Homo sapiens: one gene and its partners. The protein of the gene in region 2 interacts with the protein of the main gene of each other region in a pairwise test. Each region holds a gene or a part of one and is shown on either strand. Other genes may lie near its edges.

Evidence for each region.
Region 1: the proteins of PSMC6 (region 2) and CYB5R2 interact in binary tests that used the Homo sapiens proteins (3 or more experiments, as listed by UniProt).
Region 3: the proteins of PSMC6 (region 2) and CRKL interact in binary tests that used the Homo sapiens proteins (3 or more experiments, as listed by UniProt).
Region 4: the proteins of PSMC6 (region 2) and SEC14L5 interact in binary tests that used the Homo sapiens proteins (3 or more experiments, as listed by UniProt).

What each region holds. Positions count from the first base shown.
Region 1 is NC_000011.10:7,660,128-7,667,566, forward strand, and holds the end of CYB5R2 (NADH-cytochrome b5 reductase 2), read right to left. Parts: intron 7,178-7,439; exon of another isoform or gene 6,485-7,177; coding exon of another isoform or gene 6,428-6,484; intron 6,424-6,427; coding exon 6,324-6,423; coding exon of another isoform or gene 6,260-6,323; intron 5,813-6,259; coding exon of another isoform or gene 5,713-5,812; exon of another isoform or gene 5,700-5,712; intron 5,420-5,699; coding exon 5,247-5,419; 3' UTR 4,977-5,246; downstream 1-4,976. UniProt on the Homo sapiens protein: NADH-cytochrome b5 reductases are involved in desaturation and elongation of fatty acids, cholesterol biosynthesis, drug metabolism, and, in erythrocyte, methemoglobin reduction.
Region 2 is NC_000014.9:52,722,348-52,729,282, forward strand, and holds the end of PSMC6 (26S proteasome regulatory subunit 10B), read left to right. Parts: intron 1-1,457; coding exon of another isoform or gene 1,458-1,480; exon of another isoform or gene 1,481-1,527; intron 1,528-1,617; coding exon 1,618-1,689; exon of another isoform or gene 1,690-1,693; intron 1,694-5,151; coding exon 5,152-5,270; 3' UTR 5,271-6,243; downstream 6,244-6,935. UniProt on the Homo sapiens protein: Component of the 26S proteasome, a multiprotein complex involved in the ATP-dependent degradation of ubiquitinated proteins.
Region 3 is NC_000022.11:20,927,894-20,935,883, reverse strand, and holds part of CRKL (crk-like protein), read right to left. Parts: intron 2,106-7,990; coding exon 1,640-2,105; intron 1-1,639. UniProt on the Homo sapiens protein: May mediate the transduction of intracellular signals.
Region 4 is NC_000016.10:5,001,368-5,009,357, forward strand, and holds part of SEC14L5 (SEC14-like protein 5), read left to right. Parts: intron 1-2,034; coding exon 2,035-2,206; intron 2,207-4,546; coding exon 4,547-4,681; intron 4,682-5,984; coding exon 5,985-6,119; intron 6,120-7,053; coding exon 7,054-7,281; intron 7,282-7,990.

The DNA of each region.
Region 1 (7,439 bases), on a different chromosome or scaffold from region 2:
AATACCTTTTATTTCCTTCTCCTGCCTAATTGCCCTGGCCAGAACTTCCAACACTGTGTTGAATAGGAGTGGTGAGAGAGGGCATCCCTGTCTTGTGCCCGTTTTCAAAGGGAATGCTTCCAGTTTTTGCCCATTCAGTATGATATTGGCTGTGGGTTTGTCATAGATAGCTCTTATTATTTTGAAATACGTCCCATCAATACCTAATTTATTGAGAGTTTTTAGCATGAAGGGTTGTTGAATTTTGTCAAAGGCTTTTTCTGCATCTATTGAGATAATCGTGGTTTTTGTCCTTGGCTCTGTTTATATGCTGGATTACATTTATTGATTTGCGTCTATTAAACCAGCCTTGCATCCCAGGGATGAAGCCCACTTGATCATGGTGAATAAGCTTTTTGATGTGCTGCTGGATTCGTTTTGCCAGTATTTTATTGAGGATTTTTGCATCAATGTTCATCAAGGATATTGGTCTAAAATTCTCTTTTTTTGTTGTGTCTCTGCCAGGTTTTGGTATCAGAATGATGCTGGCCTCATAAAATGAGTTAGGGAGGATTCCCTCTTTTTCTATTGATTGGAATAGTTTCAGAAGGAATGGTACCAGTTCCTCCTTGTACCTCTGGTAGAATTCGGCTGTGAATCCATCTGGTCCTGGACTCTTTTTGGTTGGTAAGCTATTGATTATTGCCACAATTTCAGATCCTGTTATTGGTGCATTCAGAGATTCAACTTCTTCCTGGTTTAGTGTTGGGAGAGTGTATGTGTCGAGGAATTTATCCATTTCTTCTAGATTTTCTAGTTTATTTGCGTAGAGGTGTTTGTAGTATGCTCTGATGGTAGTTTGTATTTCTGTGGGATCGGTGGTGATATCCCCTGTATCATTTTTTATTGTGTCTATTTGATTCTTCTCTCTTTTTTTCTTTATTAGTTTTGCTAGCAGTCTATCAATTTTGTTAATCCTTTCAAAAAACCAGCTCCTGGATTCATTAATTTTTTGAAGGGTTTTTTGTGTCTCTATTTCCTTCAGTTCTGCTCTGATTTTAGTTATTTCTTGCCTTCTGCTAGCTTTTGAATATGTTTGCTCTTGCTTTTCTAGTTCTTTTAATTGTGATGTCAGGGTGTCAATTTTGGATCTTTCCTGCTTTCTCTTGTGGGCATTTAGTGCTATAAATTTCCCTCTACACACTGCTTTGAATGTGTCCCAGAGATTCTGGTATGTTGTGTCTCTGTTCTCGTTGGTTTCAAAGAACATCTTTATTTCTGCCTTCATTTCGTTATGTTCCAAGTAGTCATTCAGGAGCAGGTTGTTCAGTTTCCATGCAGTCGGGTGGTTTTGAGTGAGATTCTTAATCCTGAGTTCTAGTTTGATTGCACTGTGGTCTGAGAGATAGTTTGTTATAATTTCTGTTCTTTTACATTTGCTGAGGAGAGCTTTACTTCCAACTATGTGGTCAATTTTGGAATAGGTGTGGTGTGGTGCTGAAAAATATGTATATTCTCTTGATTTGGGGTGGAGAGTTCTGTAGATGTCTATTAGGTCCACTTGGTGCAGAGCTGAGTTCAATTCCTGCGTATCCTTTGTTGACTTTGTCTCGTTTATCTGTCTAATGTTGACAGTGGGGTGTTAAAGTCTCCCATTATTAATGCGTGGGAGTCTAAGTCTCTTTGTAGGTCACTCAGGACTTGCTTTATGAATCTGGGTGCTCCTGTATTGGGTGCATATATATTTAGGATAGTTAGCTCCTCTTGTTGAATTGATCCCTTTACCATTATGTAATGGCCTTCTTTGTCTCTTTTGATCTTTGTTGGTTTAAAGTCTGTTTTATCAGAGACTAGGGTTGCAACCCCTGCCTTTTTTTGTTTTCCATTTGCTTGGTAGATCTTCCTCCATCCTTTTATTTTGAGCCTATGTGTGTCTCTGCACGTGAGATGGGTTTCCTGAATACAGCACACTGATGGGTCTTGACTCTTTATCCAGTTTGCCAGTCTGTGTCTTTTAATTGGAGCATTTAGTCCATTTACATTTAAAGTTAATATTGTTATGTGTGAATTTGATCCTGTCATTATGATGTTAGCTGGTTATTTTGCTCGTTAGTTGATGCAGTTTCTTCCTAGTCTTGATGGTCTTTACATTGTGGCATGATTTTGCAGCGACTGGTACCGGTTGTTCCTTTCCATGTTTAGCACTTCCTTCAGGAGCTCTTTTAGGGCAGGCCTAGTGGTGACAAAATCTCTCAGCATTTGCTTGTCTGTAAAGTGTTTTATTTCTCCTTCACTTATGAAGCTTAGTTTGGCTGGATGTGAAATTCTGGGTTGAAAATTCTTTTCTTTAAGAATGTTGAATATTGGCCCCCACTCTCTTCTGGCTTGTAGGGTTTCTGCTGAGAGATCCGCTGTTAGTCTGATGGGCTTCCCTTTGAGGGTAACCCGACCTTTCTCTCTGGCTGCCCTTAACATTTTTTCCTTCGTTTCAACTTTGGTGAATCTGACAATTATGTGTCTTGGAGTTGCTCTTCTCGAGGAGTATCTTTCTGGCGTTCTCTGTATTTCCTGAATCTGAACGTTGGCCTGCCTTGCTAGATTGGGGAAGTTCTCCTGGATAATATCCTGCAGAGTGTTCTCCAACTTGGTTCCATTCTCCCCATCACATTCAGGTCCACCAATCAGACATAGATTTGGTCTTTTCACATAGTCCCATATTTCTTGGAGGCTTTGTTCATTTCTTTTTATTCTTTTTTCTCTAAACTTCCCTTCTCGCTTCATTTCTTTTATTTCATCTTCCATCACTGATACCCTTTCTTCCAGTTGATCGCATCGGCTCCTGAGGCTTCTGCATTCTTCACGTAGTTCTCAAGCCTTGGTTTTCAGCTCCATCAGCTCCTTTAAGCACTTCTCTGTATTGGTTATTCTAGTTATACATTCTTCTAAATTTTTTTCAAAGTTTTCAACTTCTTTGCCTTTGGTTTGAATGTCCTCCCGTAGCTCAGAGTAATTTGATCGTCTGAAGCCTTCTTCTCTCAGCTCGTCAAAGTCATTCTCCATCCAGCTTTGTTCTGTTGTTGGTGAGGAGCTGCATTCCTTTGGAGGAGGAGAGGCGCTCTGCTTTTTAGAGTTTCCAGTTTTTCTGTTCTGTTTTTTCCCCATCTTTGTGGTTTTATCTACTTTTGGTCTTTGATGATGGTGATGTACAGATGGGTTTTTGGTGTGGATGTCCTTTCTGTTTGTTAGTTTTCCTTCTAACAGACAGGACCCTCAGCTGCAGGTCTGTTGGAATACCCTGCTGTGTGAGGTGTCGGTGTGCCCCTGCTGGGGGGTGCCTCCCAGTTAGGCTGCTCAGGGGTCAGTGGTCAGGGACCCACTTGAGGAGGCAGTCTGCCCGTTCTCAGATCTGCAGCTGCGAGCTGGGAGAACCACTGCTCTCTTCAAAGCTGTCAGACAGGGACATTTAAGTCTGTAGAAGTTACTTCTGTCTTTTTGTTTGTCTGTTCCCTGCCCCCAGAGGTGGAGCCTACAGAGGCAGGCAGGCCTCCTTGAGCTGTGGTGGGCTCCACCCAGTTCGAGCTTCCCGGCTGCTTTGTTTACCTAAGCAAGCCTGGGTAATGGCGGGCGCCCCTCCCCCAGCCTCGCTGCTGCCTTGCAGTTTGATCTCAGACTGCTGTGCTAGCAATCAGCGAGACTCCCTGGGCGTATGACCCTCCCAGCCAGGTGCGGGATATAATCTCATGGTGCGCCGTTTTTTAAGCCCGTCGGAAAAGCGCAGTATTCTGGTGGGAGTGACCCGATTTTCCAGGTGCGTCCGTCACCCCTTTCTTTGACTCGGAAAGGGAACTCCCTGACCCCTTGTGCTTCCCAAGTGAGGCAATGCCTTGCCCTGCTTCGGCTCGCACACGGTGCGCGCACCCACTGACCTACACCCACTGTCTGGCACTCCCTAGTGAGATGAACCCGGTACCTCAGATGGAAATGCAGAAATCACCGTCTTCTGCGTCGCTCACGCTGGGAGCTGTAGACCGGAGCTGTTCCTATTCGGCCGTCTTGGCTCCTCCCTTGCATGTTGTCATTCTTAATGGGGGTTTGGGGAAGGAGTCTGAATAGGTTCCATGGAAGAGATGACACTTGAATTTGGAAACATGAATCATATTTTCCCAGGTATGCCGGAGAGGAAGGGCATTCCAGGTAGACAGACTTGAAACAGCCCAGTACAACCTAGGGATTGCCAAAAGTTGGTAGGCTAGAGCAGGGTTTCCTGGCCTCTGTGCTGCTGTCACTTTGGGCTGCGTAATACTCTGTGATGGAAATACTCTGTGATGGAGGCTCTCCTGTGGGTTTTAAGATGTTTAGCAGCATCCTTGGTCTCTACCCTCTAAATGCTAATAGAGGGTAGATGCACCCCTTCTGTAGCTGACAACCAACATGTCTTTGGACTTTGTTATCTGTTCCCTGAGCAGCAAAATCACCCTCAGTTGAGAACCAGTAGGTGAGAGAATGGGGTCGGAGTTGGGGGCCCAGGGAAAGAAAAATCTGATAAAGTCGGCAGGAGCAAACCAAGAAGGGCCTTGGGAGCCAGGCCCTGGAGTGTGTCCTGGAGAGATGGGGGTGGCCAGAGTGGGGTCTCCCTTGAAAGCAGTGAAGGATCCCCAAGGAGACAGTGAACAGGGGGATGGGTGAGGTTGGCTGTCCCTCCCCCCCACCCCGACAGACCCTCGTTTGGGTTTCATGATACAAAGGATTTAAGGCAGTTTCTGGAACCTGACTTTGAAAGTTGAGAAGTTTCTGTGTGTAACCACTCCTACCATGACCCCTAGTGCCATGGAGAGATTCTTGAGAGTTGATGTGACCCCACTTGGAGTTTTTTAGGAACTGCCCCGACACTTGCCAGTTGTGACCCCCATGGGCATGCAGAAGCCAACTCACAGGCCAGGCCACGGCCTCCTGACTGCCTAGCACGTCCCCCACAGAGCCACACTTCATGGGCTGTCTGCTTTGTACTTGAGTTTATTTCACAAAACCACGGAGAAAGATACTGAAATGGAGCTCTTTCCAGCCTCCAAGCAAGGAGGCCCCAGCAGCCAGTCTCCAGCCCCTTGAGCCCTTTTTGTTAGGCCCACACCCAAAAGAGGAGAACCAGTGTGTGCGCGAAGGTACATGGCAAGGCACTTTTGAAAACATCCCAGTTTACCGTGGTGAAATTGAACTTACTCTGAAACAGATGAAAAGGGACATGCAAAATTGCTGAGCACGTGGAGGTGTTAGTAGGTGAAAATCATGTCCTGGGTATAACCCAGCTTCTCCAGGTTAGGGTGAGCCGCCGTCTGGATTAGTGGTGGCGGGCCACACACCAGGATGAGCGTGGACTTCGCTGGAGGAGGAAGGTGCTCCTTGATCATGTCGGCAGTAACGAAGCCTGAGCTGTACTTCCAGCCTGAAATGAAGGAGATGCAGGAGCAAGCTGAGCGATGCCAGGTGGAGTTCCTGATCCCAGGCCGCCTGCACACCCACCCTCAGCCAGGGAGGAGGTGACAAGCTGCTCTACAAAGGCTTAGAAGTCTGTACTACTGCTCCCTGCAAAAAGCCTCAGAACTAGTAAACAGCCCTCTGCAGCAATCACCCCAGGTCCCAGGCTCACTGCAGGGACCCTGAAGCCCTGCTGCTGTCTGTCAGCTGTCAGCATTGACGAGGAAGGAGAACACAACGAGGTATACCGAGGTGTGTGAATCAGTACAGCCAGCTGGAGTTGTCCGGCAGGGTGTGGCCTGGTGTTAGTGGAACTGCGCAGAATTGCTCAGTAGGGTAGCGCCCTCTGCCGACCAGGGACCTGTATGACAAGCAGGTACAGCCGGGAGCAGTGTGAGAGGCGCGCCTGTGGGGTGCTCTGTGCACAGTGGTTGCTGGGATGCTGTCTGGGCTGCAGCAGCTGTCTGGGGGCTCAGCATGTCCAGGTGAGGTGGGCGGTAAGGGGTGTGGTGGCCGTAAGCAGAAGGGTGAGTGGTGAAGGGGTCAGTGCCCATATTAGATGTGTATGTGATGGCTGTGTGGAATGGGTGGGTGTTCACAGTGGACAGGGGCAGTGTCCCTTTTGATGTTCAGTGCAGCGTGAGGTGCTGCTGATGTATTAGACACCTGCTCTCGATTGCCCTTAAAAGCAGGCCATCCCAAATCCTTTCTCCCTCAATTTCTCACATTTCCCATCTGGAGCCAGAGCCCCAGGCTTAACCCCCACATCTGGTCCTACAAAACTAAAACAAAACAAAGAGACAGAGACCAGTCCTCAAAGTGGTCAAGGGTTGGTGCTGACCCATGGTGAGTGAGGGCAATGGATGTCGTACCAATGGGAGGCCTGTCCAGGGTGTACCACAGGTTGAACTGGTCTGGGTGAGTCCTGGCAATTTCTTCAAGCTCTTTTCTGACCAAGATATCCTCCTCTGTCTAGAAAAGAAGCAACACTGAAAAAGCCCCTCCAGGGCCATCCTCTTGTTCCCTGGACTGACTACACCGGTCAGCATACTCCTGGCCAAAGCTGCCACCACTCCAGCTGGAGTGCTCGCTGCCAACTCCCACGGCAAACAAGAGTTCTGCTGCTGCTCCTGAAGCTCAAACCCTTTGTTTTGTGGATGAAGTTCCTCCATGTGGATGAAGAACCTCCATGGGATGTAGGTTCCCATGGAGCTGCAGTGACCGCCTCCAACTAGAAGGACCTTAGCCAAGCGCTGGCCAGGATGGCTTCACTCGGAGCTCCAGCCCTGCCTCCTACATCTACACTGAGCTCTAGCACAGCAAACCTAACTGGAACAAGCTCAGTGCAGGCCCAGGATCTTCTGGAAGAAATGTAATGGGCTCAGAAAGTCCTGTGATAGAACAGCACTGGATATGTGAAGGAGAGGAAAACAGTCTGGAGCCCCATTTGGGGGAAAGGGAACCAAAGCCAAAAATAACCTGTCACAGCCTCAAAGATAACTGCACAGAAGACCTGGATCTTAAAACTCCTCATGATTCTCATCCCAGTCATTCCACTTCTGGGATTCTGTTTTAGAAAATAATCTAAAAGTAATCAAGCGTAGGCACAATTATTCATCACCATATTATTTAGAACTGAAAACAGCCTGAATGTGGAAGTTAGTAAATTATAGTGCAACTTGATAAAAACTATGATGAAAATATTTATAAAGCATCTTAAAGAGAAGAAAATGCCTGTTGTGGTAATGCTGAGTGAAAAAAAAAAAGCATATATAAATTACAAATATATAACATATATAGAAAAAAGATTTAAAAAGTAAGTAAATATTTATATTCTGTATTTTCTGAAGTGTCCACTGAGGACATCTGTGATTTTACACTTAGCAAAAATACAGCAGTACATCTTAAGGAAAAAAGGAATGCTTAGTGCTTAGGGCTGGCTGAGGAGACACAAAAGAGTTAAATACATGCAAAAAGCAGGCCTGGAC
Region 2 (6,935 bases):
ATGGAAGAGTTTATGACCCCCCTGCCCTTTTTTTTTTTTTTTTAATAATGCTACTGGGAATGACCTAGGAGAAAGAGAAATTGGCAATGTTCTTTCCTTGAAGAGGGATTGGCCCTATATATATGTGTACTTTTATGAGACTGGAGGAAAGGCAGAGTACATAGATGCTTATGATGACAGGTTCTTAGATAGTGCAGGAACTTGTGGAAGTGTTTTTTTCTGAATGCTTCTGTTTTCTCAGTGAAGTAGAATGCACGTTCAGAATGAAGATAGGGAAGTGTTCTTAGAGATTTGAGGACAAAGGAGAAGGTATAAAGTCATTATCTATGGAAGTGAGGGATTGGACTAGGGTGCAGGCCAGTAAAACATGGCTTGTGAACCAAATTCTGCCTGCCCTGTGTTTTTGGAAACACACAAAGTTTTGTTGTAACCCAAGCATGCTCATTTATCTGTTGTCTATGGCTGCTTTCCTACTGGAATAGCTGAGTTGAATAGTTACAACAGAAACCATATGGCTTGCAAAGCATACAGTATTTACTCTCTGGCCCTTTACATAAAAAGTTTGCTGACCTCCAGACTAGGGAAATCTAGTATAATTTCCAGGCAGCCTTAAAAACTCTTTAGAAGTTAATGGTCCAGAATAATGACAAATAGCTGATTGTTGAATTTCACTATCTTCATTGCCCCTGTTAGAGAGTTTTGAGCTGGAAAGACCGAACTGAACAAAGGATGTCAATGTATAGGTTTCTTCCACAAATACTGAGCTCTTGCTAGATGCCAGATACTGTGCTAGCCTTGGGAATTCTTGCTCTCAGGAAGCTTACAATGAACTTAAACCTGATTAAAGACAATTCATGAATATATGTGTGATTTCAAATAGAGAACGACATGCCCTATATTGCCTGACCAAACGGTGCATCATCAAAGTTATTCAAACTGTAGTAGCCTGTGCTGTCTTACTTCTCTTCCTATTCTGTATCAGATCCATTGTTGCTACCCCAATCCTATAGCTCTTTGATTCATGTCTGTTATGTGGGTGGATGGAGAACTCACTTTATTACTGCTACCATAGATCTGATACTTCACCACTTGAATCTTGCACAGAAACCAGAGAAGCTAGCTAATGCATGCTGTAGCATTTAAAAATTCCATGTGATACAATTATGTATGATTACATTTCAGTTTTGCTATACTTTATATTTGGCTTGTATGATTAAAGTAAACAAAGTAAATTCCATTGTTATAATTGGTTTTGAGTGTTATAGGTTTATTCAAATCCAAGATTTGATTACAGTTTTGATAAGAGTCACAGCTTAACAGGTATCTGGAGTTCACATGTGCATAGCTATTTCACTGTATAAAAATAGATTAAGATATTTTGAGATTTTGGTGATATTTCCTGTTTTTAAAGTTTCAGGGGTGTGTCTAATTCTTCTTGGTGCTGGTTTATTTAACAGAAGTCTTAGTTTTTGGATATTAATATTGTGGAAAGTTAACAGAGCTGATGTCTAGCTGATCAAACTCAAAGTAAGCTCTTCAGTTTAAATTTTCGATGTGGGCATAAATCAAGTAAAGGTCTAATTTTTAAAACTAATTTCCAGTATTTTTTCTAAACAGATTATGAAGCAATTGTGAAGCTTTCGGATGGCTTTAATGGAGCAGATCTGAGAAATGTTTGTACTGAAGCAGGTAAGGGTTTAAAGTACAGTTTTACTATTGATTTTGATTTTTAAAATTTGCTGAAACTGTTTTGAGTTTATCTGAAAGCGGAGCATAGACTTTGCAAGGATTTGGGTTCATGCTGTTCTTTTAGGAATCGATTCCAGGAAATAGGAGAAGCAGGGCAAGTGAGATGGAAAGAGGGAAAGCTAATATGAGGGTGCACCATTGAGGTAGGTGCTGTAGGAAAGGGAGGTTAGATCTCAGAGAAGCATACAGAATGCCTTCCAGGATCACCCAGCTGAAAGTTGGGAGACTAGAACATTGATTTACCAGTACTCATCCCCCATTGGATGAGATTTGTCCTTGGTAGTGTTGACTCCTTTGCACTTCTACCTGCCTTAGGGCAGAATGTGGAAGGAGAGGCATGTAATAGAACACTGGCCCCCTAAAGTAAGTCTGAGGTGCTACAGAATTGCCTACCACACCTGTGGCTGGAATTAGAATGGGCCAGCACCAGAGGTATCTGCTGCAAAATGAATTGTGTATGTTGTCTAATACTAGTCTGTGAGCAGTGTTTTGAAAGATTGATTTATGAATTATGTGATCATGCCATTTGTGTAAAATGTAGTATTTAAATATAATTCTCTGTGGATTGTGTGATACTATTTTTTTCACTTCTACATGGTATGTAAAAATTGTGTGATGCTATTTTTATTTCCAGTACCAAGTAGCTTTAATACCCTACCTAGAATCATTTAGTTTTTGTCTTCCATACAGAATCTTTAAATAGAAAAAATAAACTTCTACAGTATAGTTACTGACTTTATAGGTTATAGATTTTCTTAAGTATTAGAATATGTGATTTCCTCTTGCTTTTCATATCATGTTTAGCCTTAGTAAATTCAACACAGTGTTTAAAGTGGCTGCTCAGGGAGGGCTTCTCAGTACAGGTATCTTCATGGGTATTGGGTATGCTGTGAGTCAGTATCTGCATCAGATATGCAGGTCAGATACTTCTGTTCACGTCTAGAAATGCTGTCAATGCAAATTAGGGTAAATCATGCTCACAGAGCGTTATCAATAAACTAAACTATTTAGAGGTAAACTGTCATATAGCTTGAACAAGTTAGAGTAATTTATGACATTCTCTTTCCAAAATGTAAACCAGACCAAATTATTATCAGAAGATTGCTTTGGTTAGATTGTAATCCAAATGCAAGCTGTGCAGTGAACCTAAAGGCTGTTGCTATCAAAATATACGCTTTTTTTCCTTACATATTCTTACAAATTTACCTTTAGTTATTGCAAATGAGCTATAACTTCTGTGTGGATTAAAATTGTAGTTCTTTTTTAACTAGGTGGGACATTCACATCTGGAAACATACTGAAATTTTTATCTTCTTTTTAGACTTGAAGGCTTTTTTGTTAACATTTTTCGTAAGTTAAAATACACTTGATTCAACTACAGTTGCCCTTCCTGTTCAGGTCCTGACATTATCTCTTTTGGATTATAATACATCTCTATTTTATTTTTTCTTTTGAGACGGAGTCTCACTCTGGCCCAGGCTGGAGTGCAGTGGCATGATCACTGCTCCCTGTAGCCCAGACCTGATCATTTCTCCTTTATCTTCCAGTAGCTGGGACTATAGGCGTGCGCCACCACACCCAGCTAATTTTTGTATTTTTTGTAGAGACGGGTTTCACCATGTTGTCCAGGCTGGTCTCAAATTCCTGGGCCCAAGTAATCCACCCACCTGGGCCTCCCAAAATGCTGGGATTACAGGCACAAGCTACCAGGCCTGGCCAGGCATCTCTTGTGCAGATTTACTTATTCACTAAAGTGATTTGGAAAATAGCCATGTGTGCAAGGTTTACAAAAATAACTTACCTAGTTTCACTGTAGCTTTCTAAACAAGTTTTGAAACTTTGTTATTTTTTAAAAATCAGTCATTTCCATTCACCCGGTTTCTAGGACAACATAGATTGTTTCCTTATGTAGAAATCTAGAAAGGAAGTAATCCTTGAAATCTTCTATATTAACTCCCTCATTTTATGTAAGTGAAAATTCAATACAGGCAGATCCTCAGTGGAAATTTTAGAATTCATTTAATTAGTAGATAGCAATAAACTTACCTGCTTTAGTTTATCATGAGTTAGGATTATCTCAAAATCTGGGACCCATATCCATAACACAACTAATGTTTAAAAAACTGCATACAAGGAAACTTTTACCCCTTTGTCAAATACTGTTTGAGAAGGTACTTGTCAAAAAGTTGAAGGAAAAAATTGAGTTGTGATACTCAAATATGAATCAAATAAAAATACCAATTTGTACATAAATTAGGTAAATTTTAACACATGAATAATGACTCCGAGTTTTGCTAAAACCCGCTGTTGGCTTTCTATATGATTCCCTATTCTCAACGTTTTTGATTATTAACAAAGAATGGCTATCAAACTTACTCAAGATTTTTTTTCCCCCATAAATGTGTGCCTTCCAGCAAATTGCTTCCTGTCAAGTTAAGTTACGCTTAAAATGTGTATGTGTTGGTAGTTTTGATTGCTTCGGTTTTTTATGCTTGTTTTTATTAAGAGCTACAATCAGATACAGGGACCATTTAAGCCTGATTTTATTTTATTTTATTTTTTTGAGACAGAGCCTCACTCTGTCACCCAGACTGGAGTGCAGTGGTGCGATCTTGGCTCACTGCAACCTCTGCCTCCCGGGTTCAAGCGATTCTCCTGCCTCAGCCTCCCAAGTAGCTGGGGTTACAGATGCCCACTACTACGCCCAGCTAATTTTTGTGTTTTTAGTAGAAACGGGGTTTTACCATGTTGGCTAGGCTGGTCTCGAACTCCCGACCCCAGGTAATCCGTCCACCTTGGCCTCCCAAAGTGTTGGGATTACAGGTGTGAGCCACCGTGCCCAGCCTTGAACCGGATGTTAAATATTCATATAATGGTCATACCTGTTTTTGTTTTAGAACATAATCACAACACCGCTATGGATTTTTTTTTTTTTTTTTTTTTGAGATGGGGTCTCGCTCTGTTGCCAGGCTGGAGTGCAGTGCCACTATCTCAGCTCACTGCAACCTCCGCCTCCTGGGTTCAAGCCATTCTCCTGCCTTAGCCTCCCGAGTAGCTGGGACTACAGGCGCGCGCCACCATGCCCAGCTAATTTTTTTTTTTTTTTGTATTTTTAGTAGAGATGGGGTTTCACCGTGTTGGCCAGGATGGTCTTAATCTCTTGACATTGCAATCTGCCCATCTTGGCCTCCCAAAGTGTTGGGATTACAGGCGTGAGCCACCGCACCCGGCCTGTGGATTTTAATTGAAAAAAGATAGTGGTTTTTAGCAAATTACAACTACTGGCTCAGAAGTAATAAATCTAAGCTTCACATTTATTCCATAGAATTATATTGTTTTTCTTATAATGAACATATAATTCATATGTGATATATAGCAGTCATGTTGTTTTATTCTCTACAGGTATGTTCGCAATTCGTGCTGATCATGATTTTGTAGTACAGGAAGACTTCATGAAAGCAGTCAGAAAAGTGGCTGATTCTAAGAAGCTGGAGTCTAAATTGGACTACAAACCTGTGTAATTTACTGTAAGATTTTTGATGGCTGCATGACAGATGTTGGCTTATTGTAAAAATAAAGTTAAAGAAAATAATGTATGTATTGGTAATGATGTCATTAAAAGTATATGAATAAAAATATGAGTAACATCATAAAAATTAGTAATTCAACTTTTAAGATACAGAAGAAATTTGTATGTTTGTTAAAGTTGCATTTATTGCAGCAAGTTACAAAGGGAAAGTGTTGAAGCTTTTCATATTTGCTGCGTGAGCATTTTGTAAAATATTGAAAGTGGTTTGAGATAGTGGTATAAGAAAGCATTTCTTATGACTTATTTTGTATCATTTGTTTTCCTCATCTAAAAAGTTGAATAAAATCTGTTTGATTCAGTTCTCCTACATATATATTCTTGTCTTTTCTGAGTATATTTACTGTGGTCCTTTAGGTTCTTTAGCAAGTAAACTATTTGATAACCCAGATGGATTGTGGATTTTTGAATATTATTTTAAAATAGTACACATACTTAATGTTCATAAGATCATCTTCTTAAATAAAACATGGATGTGTGGGTATGTCTGTACTCCTCCTTTCAGAAAGTGTTTACATATTCTTCATCTACTGTGATTAAGCTCATTGTTGGTTAATTGAAAATATACATGCACATCCATAACTTTTTAAAGAGTATGATTCAACGTAATATTTGCTAATATGTGACTGGGTTTTCTTGGTTTATGTAAGACGATAGGTCCCTGTTGAGGATGTGGAGGTCTGGACCCTCTTCCAGGAAAAATTCTAACATACAATTTTGCGTATACTATAATTTCAGGAAATTTATTGTTTCCCAAGCTCATCCAAGGACTCTTTAGGTATGTATGGATACCTGGCTAAGAGTGTATGATGTAGGGGATGTAGGAGTGTCAGAAATGTTCAAAACATGATTTCTGTTACCTATACATGATTCTTATATCATCTGGCAATAAAAGCTATAACAAAGTACACAAAGGAATCATCATTGGGCATCAATAATTATTAAAGATGCTGGTGAAAAGAAAAGACAACTTCAGTTTCATAAACACTAAAGAACCAAAAATACATGACCTAGCTAATTATACAATAATTCTTCAAATTAAAAACTTCCTAGCAGGATATTATGTGCCTTTTTATAATTTTAGAAGATGAACAGTTAAAATAGAAAATGGAGTGGTCAAGTTAGCCATCTCATACTCAAATTATTGTACAGTTCTATTTCTATGTGTTGGCAGTGCATTTTATGTGACAAAAAGTAGAATGTAGGGGGAGGTTTAAGTCAAATATCTATGTGATCTTTTCACTTATAATTTGCATTTAGTTAAGGAGTGACTATCTTGCCTTTTACCTTTGTGCTGGCGGTGGTTTTTTAAAGAATCAATTTGGTGTACAAATCCTTTCTTTCTTTTTTTATTTTTGATTTTTTTTGAGATGGAGTTTCGCTCTTGTTGCCCAGGCTGTAGTGCCATTGCACTATCTCAGCTCATTGCAACCTCCGCCTCCCGGATTTAAGCGGTTCTCCTGCCTCAGCCTTCTAAGTAGCTGCGATTACTGGCATGCGCCACCACACCCAGCTAATTTTTGTATTTTTAGTAGAGACGGGGTTTCTCCATGTTGGTCAGGCTGGTCTCAAACTCCCGACCTCAGGTGATCCACACGCC
Region 3 (7,990 bases), on a different chromosome or scaffold from region 2:
TGTGCCCAGCTGAGAAAGAGTTTTTTTAAAAAGTAATATTTAGTTAGAAGAAAATGACTTGGCCAAGTGCAGTGGATCATGCCTGTAATCCCAGCACTTGCGGGCTAAGGTGGGTGGGTCACCTGAGGTCAGGAGTTCGAGACCAGCCTGGCCAACATGGTGAAACCCCGTCTCTACTAAAAATACAAAAATTAGCCGGGCAGGGTGGTGCATGCCTGTAGCCCCGCTACTCGGGAGGCTGAGGCAGGAGAATCACTTGAACTCAGGAGGCGGAGGATGCAGTGAGCCAAGATCACGCCACTGCACTCCAGCTTAGGCAACAAGGCAATAGAGCGAGACTCTGTCTCAAAAAAAAAAAAAAGAAAAGAAAATGACTTGGTAATTAAAATGTTCAAGTTCTATTTCATGCTATTCTAATTTACAAAATCCATAACAAGCAAGGGCTGATGTATTTTAAAATCATTCCTCTATGGCTGGGCGTGGTCGCACATGTCTGTAATCCCAGCACTTTGGGAGGCCAAGGCAGGCAGATCGCCTGAGGTCAGGAGTTCAAAACCAGCCTGGCCAACATGGTGAAACCCCATCTATACTAAAAATACAAAAATTCGACGGGCATGGTGGCAGGCATCTGTAATCCCAGCTACTAAGGAGGCTGAGGCAGGATAATCATTTGAACCCAGGAGGCAGACGTTGCCATGAGGCAAGATCATGCCACTGTGCTGGAGCCTGGGTGACAAAGTAAGACTCCATCTCAAAAAAAATCATTCCTGGGCCGGGCACGGTGGCTCACACCTGTAATCCCAGCACTTTAGGAGGCCAAGATAGGCAGATCACGAGGTCAGGAGATCGACACCATCCTGGCTAATACGGTGAAACCCTGTCTCTACTGAAAATACAAAAAAATTAGCCAGGCGTGGTGGCGGGTGCCTGTCGTTCCAGCTACTTGGGAGGCTGAGGTAGGAGAATGGTGTGAACCCAGGAGGTGGAGCTTGCAGTGAGCGGAGATTGAGCCACTGAACTCCAGCCTGGGCGACAGAGTGAGACTCCATCTCAAAAAAAAAAAAAAAAAAAAAAAAAATTCATTCCTCTACCAAGCTCAAGAGAAATTCTAAGACATTTTCATATTTCTCAACTGATTCCAATGTTAGAAATACAGAACCATATATGTTGATTTTGCCTCTAGGTCATGGGTCTTCCTTAATCATTATCTTTCCTTACTGGAAGAAAAACCAACAACTGCAAAACTAAATCTGTTAGGCTTTGGGAACAAGAAAGAGCAAGAAGGCTGAGAATTTGGGGCAAACAAGGAATAGGACAGAACAAAACAAGCTGTGAAACACTAATAATGGGCCAGGCATGGTGGCTCACATCTGTAATCCCAGTACTTTGGGAGGTCGAGGTAGGAGGATTGCTTGAGGCCAGGACCTCGAAATCAGCCTGGGCAAACAACTCTTTTAAAATTAGAGACCTCGTCTCTATAAAAAAATTTTAAAATGAAACGCTAACAGTGCGTATCTTCCAAAATCATCCAGTGCTCTAATTCCATGAATATAAGCTTAAATGAGCAGAAACTAAACTAAAACTAAAAATTAAAACCAAATGTCAAAGGACCCAAAAAGCTAATCTGAACAGATTTTACCTCTAATGCCAAGGCAGTCTTGTCATAAGCACAGGGTACTCTTTTCTGGATTGCTTTCGCAAAGACAGGTCCATTCTGTGTGGATGGCAAAGGGGTGATTGCTGCCCCAGGAGAACCGGAAACTGCAGGTAGAGGAGTTGTGGTCTGAGGTTGAGCGTATGCATGAGCAGGTTCTGGGATCCCATAACTGTTGGAATTCCTATTTCCATGCTTTCCGTGTGGTGAGGATCTCACAAGCTTTTCGACATAAGGGACAGGAATCATCCCAACCCGGCCATCCTTGTTCCGGGCACTCCACCACTGTTCTTCAGGCTTCTCTATTATCACTAGGATCTCACCCTTTTTAAAGGGCAGGTCTTCGGCATCATTCCCAGGAAAATCATACAGAGTCCGTACATATTCCAGGTTATCTTCTGCTGTAGGCAGGTTGGGTGCTGAGACAGATCCCATTGGTGGGCTTGGATACCTTAAGAGAGAAAGAAAATTACTCTAAGAGAAAAATCTTACTCTAAGCCAGTGCCTGTCAAACTTCTTAATATACCACTCTCCTCTATAATAAATTATTTTCCTTTTTTATGAGACAAGTTTTGCTCTTGTCGCCCAGGCTGGAGTGCAATAGCGTGATCTTAGCTCACTGCAAACTCTGCCTCCCAGGTTCAAGTGATGCTCCTGCCTCAGCCTCCTGAGTAGCTGGGATTACAGGCGCCCACTACCACGCCCAGGTAACTTTTTTTATTTTTAGTAGAGAAGGGGTTTCACCATGTTGGCCAGGCTGGTCTTGAACTCCTGACCTCGGGCGATCCACGCACCTCGGCCTCCCAACGTGCTGGGATTACAAGCATGAGCCACCATGCCCGGCCTCTACATTTTTTTTGGAGATGGAGTCTTGTTCTGTTGCCCAGGCTGGAGTGCAGTGGCAGGATCTCAGCTCACTGCAACCTCTGCATCCCAAGTTCAAGCAATTCTCCTGCCTCAGCCTCCTGAGTAGCTGGGACTACAGGCACATGCCACCACGCCCCGCTAATTTTTTCTATTTTTAGTAGAGACGGAATTTCACCTTGTTAGCCAGGATGGTCTTGATCTCCTGACCTCGTGATCTGCCTGCCTCGGCCTCCCAAAGTGCTGGGATTACAGGTGTGAGCCACTGAGCCCAGCCTTTTTTTTGGAGACAGAATCTTGCTCTGTCACCCAGGCTGGAGTGCAGTAGCGCAATTTCAGTTCACTGTAACCTCTACCTCCCGTGTTCAAGTGATTTTTCTGCCTCAGCCTCCCGAGTAGCTGAGATTACAGATGTGCAACACCATACCCAGCTAAATTTTGTATTTTTAGTAGAGACAGGATTTTGGCATGTTGGCCAGGCTGGTCTCAAACTCCTGCTGGCCTCATGTGATCCACCCGCCTCAGCCTCCCAAAGTGCTGTCATTACAGGTGTGAGCCACCACGCCTGGCTTTATTTTCCTTTCTATATTCTTAGTAGTTAAGAAGGTTCTATCATGTTGTAATTTTTGTAGTCTGTACTGTCCCAAAAGTTACTATTCTGAATGTCTTTTCAAATTACAAGTATACACACACACATACACTCCATCTCTGTTTTACAGAAACCTTTTGATTACACAGAGATACCTGGTTTAAATTTATTTTTATAATCTCAAGTAAGTTCGGAAGCTGCCTTCCTTTGGACCCTTGTCACAACCACCACACACTCTTCCTCCCAGTCCTAATCTATGGCTTACATCCTGCACACTTCCCTGGACACACAGAAAATGACAAAGGCCTCTGCCTCTGGCCTCTTGAAAAAAAAGGAACAAAAAAGGGCTTACAGACTTGCCAAATTAAAAATAATAAATCCACCAGGCGTGGTGGCTCAGACCTGTAATCCCAGCACCTTGGGAGGCCAAGGCAGGCAGATGACTTGGAGACCTGCCTGTCCAACATATCAAAACCCTGTCTCTACTAAACAGACAAAAAATGAGCCGGGCATAGTGGCACACACCTGCGGTCCCAGATACTCAAGAGGCTGAGGCAGGAGCATTACTTGAGCCCAGGAGTTAGAAGCTGCAGTGAGCTATGACTGCATCATTACACTCCAGCCTGGGCAACAGAACAAGACTGTCTCAAAACATAAATAAATAAGAGGCCGGCGCAGTGGCTCATGCCTGTAATCCCAGCACTTTGGGAGGCTGAGGTGGGCGGATCATGAGGTCAGGAGATCGAGACCATCCTGGCTAACACGGTGAAACCCCGTCTCTACTAAAAATACAAAAAATTAGCCGGGCATGGTGGTGGGTGCCTGTAGTCCCACTTACTCAGGAGGCTGAGGCAGGAGAACGGTGTGAGCCCGGGAGGCGGAGCTTGCAGTGAGCCAAGATTGCACCACTGCACTCCAGCCTGGGTGACAGAGCGAGACTCCGTCTCAAAAAAATAAAATAAAATAAAATAAAAATAAAAATAAATAGCTAGCAAGAGTAGTAGGAGCAAGAGTAATAATAAAGAGCTCATACTTATTATCTATGCTAGGCATGGTTTACGATCTTTGAAGAGATTGGATTATTTAATAGTCTGTGAGGTAGATGCTGTTATTATCCCCATTTTACAAATGAGGAGCCAAAGAAGAGGTTAGACTTGCACTCAGGGAGTCTGGTTCTAAACTCTTCACTCATAATGAGCTAATCAGCCTTAGGGACGAACCCTGCATCTGTCAGGTGTATGAGAATTAATGGCATAATGCATGTGAGGCATTCAAAATTACCGAGCAGCACCAAGCATCCAATGTACCGACATGAACACACACATACCCCTTCAAGTATATCCCTGCTTCTATTTCTTTCTCTTTTTTTTGAGACAGGGTCTTGCTGTCATCCTGGCTGGAGTGCAGAGTGGCACAACCACAGCTCACTGTAGCCTCCACTTCCCAAGCTCAAGTGATCCTCCCACTTCAGCCTCCTGAGTAGCTGGGACTACAGGCAGTTGCCATCACACACAGCCAATTTTTAAATTTTCTGTAGAGATGGGGGTCTCACTATGTTTTCAGGGCTTGTCTTGAACTTCTAGCCTCAAGCAATTCTCTCGCCTTGGCCTCCCAAAGTGTTGGGATTACAGGTGTGAGCCATCACACCCAGCCCCTGCTATTTCAAGAGCCACAGAGAGCCTGTGAACAGTCCAGTAAGTACCATATAAATTTCAGACACTATTAAGAGCACAGTCAGTTCCACCTTAGACTCCATCCAAGAGTATTTTATTATTTGTATAGTTAAAAGCAGTTAGCCAGTGTGTGGTGGCTCACGCCTGTAATCCCAGCACTTTGGGAGGCTGAGGTGGACGGATCACAAGGTCAGGAGATTGAGACCATCCTGGCTAACACGGTGAAACCCTGTCTCTCTACTAAAAATACAAAAAATTAGCCAGGTGTGGTGGCACACGCCTGTAGTCCCAGCCACTCGGGAGGCTGAGGCAGGAGAATGGTGTAAACCCGGGAGGCGGAGCTTGCAGTGAGCCAAGATCACGTCACTGCCTGAAACAGTTAAGACTCTATCTCAAAAAAAAAAAAAAAAAAAAAAAAAAAAAGCCAGGCGTGTGGTGGCTCACGCCTGTAATCCCAACACTGGGAGGCCGAGGCGGGAGGATCACTTGAGGTCAGGAGTTCAAGACCAACCTGGCCAACATGACAAAAAACCCTGTCACTACTAAAAATACAAAAGTTAGCCAGGTGTGGTGGCGTGCGCCTGTAGGCCCAGCTACTTGGGAGGCCGAGGGAAGAGAATTGCTTGAACCTGGGAGGCAGAGGTTGCAATGAGCTGAGATCACACCACTGCACTCCAGCCTGGGTGACAGAGCAAGACTCCATCTTAAAAACAAACAAAAAAAAGAAGATAGCCAAGCCCATTCATTTACGTATTGTCTATGACTGTTTTTCACTACAAAGGCATAGTTGAGTAGTTGGACAGAGACTCTATGGAAAAGCTGAAAATATTTAAAATCTGACCCTTTACTCAACAGTTTGCTGATCCCCCATCTAAATTCCTGGGTTAGGGAGGCAAAGTGTGCTTTTCAACTTCCTTGCTTCCCTGGTGAGGGGTATGTCTGTGTAGAAATTTGATAAAGATAGTTTCTATTTCCCTCCACTACTATACTGCTATAGTGACCTTGGGGCTCATTTTCTGTGTTAGTATCTGCAGAGATATTCATAAATTTGACACCAAATCAATCTCACCAGCCATAACCCTGACACAAATTCCAAGTCCTCTGCCCTATATTCTCAAACTCATTTATTCATCAAACTCCCCTGAAAATTACACATTAGTTCCACTGAAGAGATAAATACATGTTGCTCCATGTCAGATATCTTAGCCTTTCCATTAGACCCCACTGTCTAAAGAAATATGAAGCATATTCATCAGAAAATTTATTGCTTCCCAATTATTTGTTCTTTGAGCAAGGTTGAAAATAGCACCCTCCCCCAACTTCCCTTTAAAATATAAAGTGTTGCCCAGGCGCAGTGGCTCATGCCTGCAATCCTAGCACTTTGGAAGGCCGAGGCAGGTGGATCATGAGGTCAGGAGTTTGAGACCAACCTGGCCAACATGACAAAACCCTGTCACTATTAAAATACAAAAATTAGCCAGGTGTGGTGGCGTGTGCCTGTAGGCCCAGCTACTTGGGAGGCTGAGGCAAGAGAATTGCTTGAACCCGGGAGGCGGAGGTTGCAGTGAGCTGAGATCATGCCACTGCACTCCAGCCTGGGCGACAGACAGAGATTCCGTCTCAAAAAATTAAATAGATAAGGCAGGTGCAGTGGCTCACGCCTGTAATCCCAGCACTTTGGGAGGCCAAGGCGGGCGGATCAAGAGGTCAGGAGATCGAGACCATCCTGGCTAACACAGTGAAACCCCATCTCTACTAAAAATACAAAAAAATTAGCTGAGCGTGGTGGCAGGCGCCTGTAGTCCCAGCTACTCGGGAGGCTGAGGCAGGAGAATGGTGTGAACCCGGGAGGCAGAGCTTGCAGTGAGCCGAGATCGCGCCACTGCACTCCAGTCTGGGTAACAGAGTGAGACTCCGACTCAAAAATAAATAAATAAAATAAAATAAAATAAAATGCACAGGGTTTTCAAGCCCATCCAAACACCCTTGACCATGCTTCTCACTTTTTGCCTATTGTCCACTACACACTTTGAGCAGCAAAGCCCCTAACAACTAATTCGTAACTGACTTTTCTTTTCTGATGATAACGAATCTCTCAGCTCTTTTGGTTAAAAGCGTTCTCAGTTTCTACATGTATAAACCATACACAAAACATCTTTAAACCAAGTGCTAATATGTTCTAAGCTTAAAATCTCCTTATGCATGCTAAGAACCAATACAATCAACTTCTAGAAAAAGGAAGTTTCAAAGGTGCTGGTAATATTCCTTTTTTTTTTTTTTTTTTTTTTTTTGAGATGGGATCTCGTTCTGTTGCCCGAGCTAGAGTGCAGAGGCACAATCATGGCTCATTGCAGCCTCAACCTCCAAGGCTCAAGCGATCCTCCCACCTCAGCCTTCTGTGTAGCTGGGACTACAGGTGCATGCCACCACATCCGATTAATTTTTGTATTTTTGGTAGAAACAGGGTCTTGCCATGTTGTCTAAGCTGGTCTTGAACTCCTGAGCTCAAGCAATCTTCCCACCTCAGCCTCCCAAAGTCCTGGGATTACAGTCTGGGCCACCACGCCTGGCCAATGTTTTATTTATTTATTTTTTAAAGGGAGCACACAGATGATAGTTTTTTTTGGCTTGTTTTGTAAATTTTTTTGAGATAGCGTCTTGCTCTATGGCCCAGGCTGGAGTGCAGCAGTACGATCATGGCTCACTATAGCCTTGACCTCCCAGGCTCAAGTGATCCTCCCACCTCAGCCTCCCATGTAGCTGGGACTACAGGCATGAGCCACCATGCCCAGCCAATCCTTGTTTAATTTTTTGCAGAGATGGGGGTTTATGTTGCCCAGGCTGGTCTTGAACTCCTGGGCTCAAGCAATCCTCCTACCTCAGCCTCCCCACTATTTGGGACTACAGGTGCATGCCACCACACCCAGCTTACATATACTTTTTTTTTGAGACAGAGTCTCACTCTATTGCCCAGGCTGGAGTGTAGTGGTGTGATCTCAGCTCACCAAAACCTCTGCCTCCTGGGTTCAAGCTATTCTTGTGCCTAAGCCTCCCCAGTAGCTGGGATTACAGGGCCCCACTACTGCCGGGCTAATTTTGTATTTTTAACAGAGATGGGTTTCACATGCTGGCCAGGCTGGTCTTAAACTCCTGACCTCAAGTGATCTGCCTCCCTCGGCCTCCCAAAGTGCTGGGATTACAGACATGAGC
Region 4 (7,990 bases), on a different chromosome or scaffold from region 2:
CCTGCCTCAGCCTCCAGAGTAGCTGGGACTACAGGCACCCGCCACCACGCCTGACTAATTTTTTTGTATTTTTAGTAGAGACAGGGTTTCACTGTGTTAGCCAGAATGGTCTCGGTCTCCTGACCTCGTGATCCGCCTGCCTCGGCCTCCCAAAGTGCTGGGATTACAGGCGTGAGCCACCACTCACAGCCTGACTTTGCTTTTTGAGATCAGCTCTCCACCACGAGTTCTCCCTTGGCTCTGTCATGGCACATCCAGGAACCCAGTGTCCTCTGCAGGAACCCACTGTCCTCTGACTCCCCCGCATTTCTGTTCCTGAACTGTTTCCCGGAGCCAGTACTTACGGTGGCATCGCCCCCAAAGGCAGCAAACCTTTCTGAGCAGCAGCTTCCTCTTCTGTAAAGTGGCTTTTTTTTTTCCTTTGAGACAGGCTCTCACTCTGTCACCCAAGCTGGAGTGCAGTGGTGCAATCACAGCTCACTGCGGCCTTGACCTGCTGGGCTCAAGCAGTCCTCCCACCTCAGCCTCCCAAGCAGCGGGGACTATAAATGTGCACCACCTTGCCCAGCTAATTTTTTTTTTTGCAGAGATGAGGTCTCACCCTGTTGCTCAGGCTGGTCTAAAACTCCTGGGCTGAAGTGATCCTCCCACCTTGGCCTTCCAAAGGGTTGGGATTACAGGCGTCAGCCTCTGTTCCCAGCCTGTAAAGTGGCTTTTACAAATGGATTCTCAAAAATAATAAGGGTTTAAAAATAATGCAAACACGGATCTTGCACTTGCTATGTAGCAGGTGCCCTTCTAAGCACCTTGATTCATTTCCTCCTCCTAAACAGCCCTGTGAGACACGGGCAGGCAGGAGCTGCTGCTTCAGCTTTTCAGCCCCAAATATCCCGATCTTTGTGAAAATTAAAGTTCCTTTGCTGTTTGCAGATTTTTTTTTTTTTTTTTTGACAGAGTCTCGTTCTGTCGCCCAGGCTGGAGTACAGTGGTGCAATCTTGGCTCACTCCAACCTCCACCTCCTGGGTTCAAGTGATTCTCGTGCCTCAGCCTCCCAGGTAGCTGGGATTACAGGTGCCTGCCACCACGCCTGGCTAATTTTTGTATTTTTAGTAGAGATGGGGTTTCACCATGTTGGCCAGGCTGGTCTCTAGAGATTTTCTAAGGACACGTATGTTGGGGTGGAAGTGGGAATCAATCCATTAGTGTCCTGGCCGGAAGCATAATTCACCCCAGATGGCTCAAATGAGGGAGTGTCATGAAGGGATGCTTTGGAGAGGTGTGTGCAGGTTTAAGCGAACAAATCTGGGAGGTGGAGGCTCCCGGGCACCAGCCGCTGCAGTCAAACAGTTATTTTCCTAATGAATGAATACTAATGAAATGGAGGCACAGAGAGGTTCAGGACTTGACCAAGATCACACAGCAAGTGGCAGAACTGGGATTTGAACCTTGGCCATCTGACTGTGGAGTGCATGCTCTCAGCACCTCTGCTCTATTTAGTAGTTAGCATCTTTTCAACAATTAACTCATTTATGCCTGAGGTTGCAATGTTTTGAATTTTTGCAATCAGACCTTGGTGATGACCTTGAGCAGTAGGATAGAAATAACTCCCACACGCTTAGCATTGCAATAATGGAATGCTAGGCCTAAATGGCCACTTGTGATAACCAGCTATAATTGAGGGCATGTGGTGTGCCCGTCCTTGCAGAGAGCTTTGTATATACCATCTCACTTGATCCTAACAGCAGTTGCTTCAGATGAGGACTGTTACTACCTTTGCCACTGTCCTATGAGTAAGTGGGTCTGTGCCCTGACCTAAGGCTCTCAGGGGTGCAGGTGAGACTTGAATTTGGGCGCTCAGCCCTGAAGTCCACAGTCTGATCCTCTTCATCGCATGGGCTCCCTACTGTGGCAGGAGCCCCCATCTGCTCCCAGCCCTATCTCTCGGAGCCTCCCTGTTCATCCCCTGTGGGGAGGGTGTTGGTGGCCTTGGGAGGCAGCAGAGCCAGGTGGAGCTGGGGCTATTTCTGCCACAGCTCCTGGACCTGCCTGCTAGACCTGGAGGGACTCAACATGCGGCACCTGTGGCGGCCGGGGGTGAAGGCCCTGCTGCGGATGATTGAGGTGGTTGAGGACAATTACCCAGAGACCCTGGGTCGGCTGCTCATCGTGCGAGCCCCCCGAGTCTTCCCCGTGCTCTGGACACTGGTAAGAGCTGGAGCCTGGGCCAGGACTCTCCCTGGGGGTGGGTGGGATGGGAGGGGTTCCGTCTGCAAGCAGCTCTGCTCTCTTTTCCTGTTTCATTTCATTTAGTAACTTTTTGGAGATGAAACTCACATAGCATAAAGCTCACACTTTTTAAGTATAGACTCCAGTGGTCTTTCCTGTATTCACTGAGTTAAGCAATTGTCACCACTAGCCAATCCCAGAACATTTCTGTCGCCCCAAAAAGAACCCCCATGCCCATTATCGTGGGTCTCAAATTCCTGGGCTCAAGCGGTCCTCTTGCCTTGGCTTCCCAAAGTGTTTGTGTTATAGGTGTGAGCCACTGCGCCTGACCTGAAATATACTCTATATTGTAACCCGGTGGGTACACGCGTGCATGCACCCATGTGCGCGCACACATACACCCACGCCCACACACACACTCCTCTGAAACAAGGGTGCAGCCAGCCACTTGCATAGTGTGGGCAAAAGCCTGGAGGCTGGACCCAGCTTGATGCTTTGGAGGAACTGAAGAAACAGTCCAGGGTGGCTGAGCAAAAAAGAGCAAAAGGGACGACAGCACCTGAGGAGGCTGGAAGATGTACAGGGGCAATAGGGACCCATGGAGGGTTCAGTAGCAGGGGAGGGTGGGGGACAGACTTAGGGGCCAGGAAGTTCTCTAGCTTTTGTGGGTGCTTCAAGGCTCTGTTCAGGTGAGGCTAGGGGGCAGGAGCTGCTTCTGAAGCTTTTTATCCTGAATTGTCCTAATCTCCGGGAAAATTAAGTCCACCTGCTGTTTGGGGTGGTTTTGGGAGTGCGAGCACATCAGCCGGGGTCCTGGCTGGAAGTGGACCTCACCCAGATGGTTCAAATGAGGGGTGTCCTGAAGGGGCTCCTTGCAGAGGTGTGGGCAGGGGAAGGAGAGACCCCAAGCACCAGTGACTGCAGTAAGCCTGGCCACCCCCAAGAGGAGGGAATGTCCTTGCAGAATCCTGGGGAAAGCTGGGACAGGGGTGGGGGCAGGGAGCTACTGGGGGTCAGCCTCAGCCTCCTGGGGCCCAGCACAGCACAGAGCGCAGTGGGGCTGGGGACAGGAGAGGGCCCTGCACGGGGGGATTGCAGTTTCCTCACCTATCTCTTGGCTTGTGGCATTCCCTGTAGAACTGGCCTGTTATCTGCCATGCCAAGGGCTCCTTCCTTCTTTCTCTCTCTCCCACTTCCTTCCTTCTTTATCAACATGTGGCTTAGAGCTCAGTGTTAAAATGGATTCCATCTGGAATAAACAAACTGTGGAATACTGTTCCATCCATGTAATGGAATAGCATTCGTCCATAAGAAGGAAGGAAGCACTGATCCTCCAACACGGAGGGACCTCGAAAACCTGATGCTCAGTGAAAGGGGCCAGACACGGAAGTCCATGTACTGTGTGATCTCCTTTATATGAAATGTGCAGAATAGGGCTGGGCGAGGTGGCTCACGCCTGTAATCCCAGTACTTTGAGAGGCCGAGGTGGGTGGATCACCTGAGGTCAGGAGTTCAAGACCAGCCTGGCCAACATGGTGAAAATACAAAAGTACAAAATTAAAATACAAAAATTAGCCAGGCATGGTGGTGGGAGCCTGTAATCCCAGCTACTTGGGAGGCTGAGGCAGGAGAATCACTTGAACCTGGGAGGTGCAGCTTGCAGTGAGCCAAGATTGCGCCATTGCACTCAAGCCTGGGAGACAGAGCGAGACTCTGTCTCCGAAACAAAAACAAAAAAGAAACGCCCAGAATAGGCAAATCCACAGAGACAGAGTGTAGATGGGTGGTTGCCCTGGGTTGGGGGAGGGGAGATGGGAAGTGACGGTGGGGTGGGAATGGGGTTTCCTTCTGGGGTGATGAACATGTCTAGGTAGAGGTGCTGGCTGCACAAGCTAGTGAGTGCACTGAAAGCCACTGAACTGTGCACTTTATAATGATTAATTCTATGTTGTATAAATTATATCTCAATAAAAAAATACATCCATGGTCAGGCGTGGTGGCTCACACCTGTAATCCCAGCACTTTGGGAGGCCGAGGCAGGTGGATCACGAGGTCAGGAGATCGAGACCATCCTGGCTAACATGGTGAAACCCCGTCTGTACTAAAAATACAAAAAAAAATTAGCCGGGCATGGTGGTGGGTGCCTGTAGTCCCAGCTACTCGGGAGGCTGAGGCAGGAGGATGGCGTGAACCCGGGAGGTGGAGCTTGCAGTGAGCCAAGATCATGCCACTGCACTCCAGCCTGGGCGACTGAGCAAGACTCCGTCTCAAAAAAAAAAAAAAAAAAACCATCCATCTTGCCTTATGTCCTGGTTTCAGATCAGCCCCTTCATCAATGAGAACACCAGGCGGAAGTTCCTCATCTACAGTGGCAGCAACTACCAGGGACCCGGAGGCCTTGTGGACTATCTGGATAGAGAAGTGATCCCTGACTTCCTTGGGGGAGAGAGTGTGGTGAGGCTTCCATGTCCACAGACAGACCTGGGCTTGAGGAGGGGGCATGCCTAGCTGGGAGGCTGGGATTCCCGGAGTGGGGCTGGGAGGTGGAGGGGGGCTGGGTGCGGCATGTGCACTCTGCCTAGGGCAGGTCTTGCTGGCTCTCAGCAGCCACAGGGCTTGCTTTAGAAGCTGCTTCAAAGAGAGGTGATGCTGTTCTGAGGTTGGGCCTTACTCTGGGTCCTTCAAACATAGTGAGTGAGATAGAAGTTTCTGGAAGCCTAAAGATTAGGCCAGTCAAAGGCTTACGCATTCTATATTCCCATCAAAGACATTGCCAAGCAGCAGTGAGTTAACCTGCTCATTCACTGCAGGGGAGGTGACTCGAATGTATCTGCAGCTCTGGACCCTGGAGCTGGGACTAGCCTCCAACCCACAGCCACACAGCCTGAAACGATCAGGAACCCCCTTCAAGGGAGGCAGTGTCCAGGCCCCTTTTATTGCCTCCCCTGGGGTGAAATGACAGGCTGGGGTGATCCTAGGTCACAACTCTGTCATCTCATATGGCCCCCAGTGGCCCGGGCCCTCTTTGTTTCTAACAGAAATACCAGACAGTGAGCTTGCGTCATTTCTGGATTTTAAAAAAGTCTTTTCCTAGGAATTTTTCCAGGCTTGCCTGTTCTCTCCGTTTGTGATGTGCGGCACACACGACTTATTTTTAGCAAACGGTTCTGCAGATCTGAGAGTGGCTTATGGAAAGACACTGAACAGTGTCCTGCTAATCCCAGTGTTTCTACAAGTGAAACGGGGTGGGGGTAATCATTGTTTGGTGGTGGCAGGGGGAGTTCTGCCAAGGCCTGGCCATCTAGGGTGCCTTTGGTTTGGGGAAATCTCTCGATGAGCACGGTGCAGTGACTGTTCCACCCCCGCCTGTGACGGGGAGAGGCAGCTGCTATGGGGTGCGGTGTGGAGAGGCCCCCCAGCCTGGCTGTCAGTCCGGCACCGGGGTAAAGGGACATGAGCATGGGGCTGTGACGAACGTGGGTTTGTGCCCTGGCTCACTCACTTTCTGCTGTGTGATCGTGGGCGAGTGGCCTGACTTGCCCGAGCCTCCATTCCTTCCTCTGTGAAACGGGAAGAATAATAGTCTCTACTGCATTGGTGGACCTGGGGATTAAATGGGGTCATGGAAGCCCACAGCCCATTCAGTAAGGGGTTGCAATTATGAGTGGCTTTGGGGGTCACACATCACCCTTCTGTGGGTCAGGCCAGCCAGGCCTCAACTGGCCCTGACCTGCTGCCCTTTATCTCTGACCTGCAGTGTAATGTCCCCGAAGGAGGGCTGGTCCCCAAGTCCCTCTACATGACAGAAGAGGAGCAGGAGCACACGGACCAGCTGTGGCAGTGGAGTGAGACCTACCATTCAGCCAGCGTGCTCCGCGGAGCCCCCCACGAGGTGCCAGGGCCTGGCCGGGGAGGGCCCGCTGAGCTGGAGTGTCTGTCGTCTTAGGTCAGGTGACCCCAAAACACAGCTTGAGATGAGGATTCTTTTTTCTTTTCTTTCTTTCTTTCTTTCTTTTTTTTTTTTTTTTTGGGATGGAGTCTCGCTCTGTTGCCCAGGCTGGAGTGCAGTGGTGCAATCTTGGCTCACTGCAACCTCCACCTCCCAGGTTCAAGCAATTCTCATGCCTCAGCCTCCCGAGTAGCTGGGATTATAGACATATGCCACTGCGTCCAGCTAATTTTTGTATTTTTAGTAGAGACGGGTTTTCGTCATGTTGGTCAGGCTGGTCTTGAAATCCTGAGGTCAGGTGATCCGCCCGCCTAGGCCTCCCAAAGTTCTGGGATTATAGGCGGGAGCCACGGCGCCTGGCCTCTTTTTTTTTTTTTTTTTTGAGACCGAGTCTCACTCTGTCACCAAGGCTGGAGTGCAGTGGCGCAATGTTGGCTCACTGCAACTTCTGCCTCCCAGGTTCAAGTGATTCTTCTGCCTCAGCCTCCCGAGTAGCTGGGATTACAGGTGCCAGCCAGCATGCCTGGCTATTTTTTTTTTGTTTGTATTTTTAGTAGAGATGGGGTTTCACCATGTTGGCCAGACTGGTCTCGAACTCCTGACCTCAAGTGATCCACCCACCTCGGCCTCCCAAAGTGTTGGGATTATAGGCATGAGCCACCAAGCCTGGCCGAGATAAGGATTCTTATGCCAGTGATCTGTTGCAGGCGAGGTCTCAGGAGAAAACTGAGGAGAGGAGGGCACTCCTGTAAGGAATGAGCGTGTGCCTGGGAAAGGAGACCCCAGGGGGCACCCACAGCCCCTCCTGCCACTGTGTTCCCCACCCCAGCTCTACTCTCTCGGCCGTGACTCTCAGACCTCGCCTGTCTCCACACAGGTGGCCGTGGAGATCCTGGAAGGAGAGTCGGTCATCACCTGGGACTTTGACATCCTGCGAGGGGACGTGGTGTTCAGCCTGTACCACACCAAGCAGGCGCCCAGGCTGGGCGCCCGGGAACCGGGGACCAGGGCCAGCGGGCAGCTGATCGACAAAGGCTGGGTCCTGGGCAGGGATTACAGCCGTGTGGAGGCTCCCCTTGTCTGCCGGGAGGGGGAGAGCATCCAGGTTTGCATTTTCTGGACCACTCATTCGCTCACCAAGCAGCACTGAGTGTCCACTGCGTGCCAGGCTTCTGGGGATACAGCGGAGGACATACTGGGCTGCTGGTCCCCAGCCTCAGGGACCCTGCAGGACAGGGCAGAGGAAAGACACACAGGGTCTCATGTAATGAAGTGCTCACCTGCCCAATGGCAGCCGGTGCAAAATCGAGAAAGCACGGGGTGCTCTGCTGAGAGGTGGCTGGTGTCTTGGGGAGGAGCACAGGGTCTGGAACCTGAGTTTCCCCATCTGGGAAATGGGACTTCTAACAGGATCCAACTGTATTTGTTTCTTGGGGCTGCAGTAATGAGTTACCACAAACTACATGGCCTAAAACAACAAAAATTTATTGTCTCACAGTTCAGGAGTTCACAAGTCCAAAACCAAGGTGTTGGCAGGGCCACGCTCCCTCTGAAGGCTGTAGGGAGGGGTTCATTCTATGCCTCTGTCCTAGCCTTAGGTAACTCCTGGCAATCCTGGGTGTCATTGGTGGGTAGATGCATCACCCCAATCTCTGCCTCTGTCTTTAAAGGGGTTTCTTCTCTGTCTGTCTCTCTTCTGAGTCTCAAATCTCCCTCCCCTCTCTCCTGTAAGGACACTAGCCATCACAGTTAGGCCCCATCTTAAATCCTGTTTTTTTTTGAGACAGGGTCTCACTCTATCCATGATCAGGAAA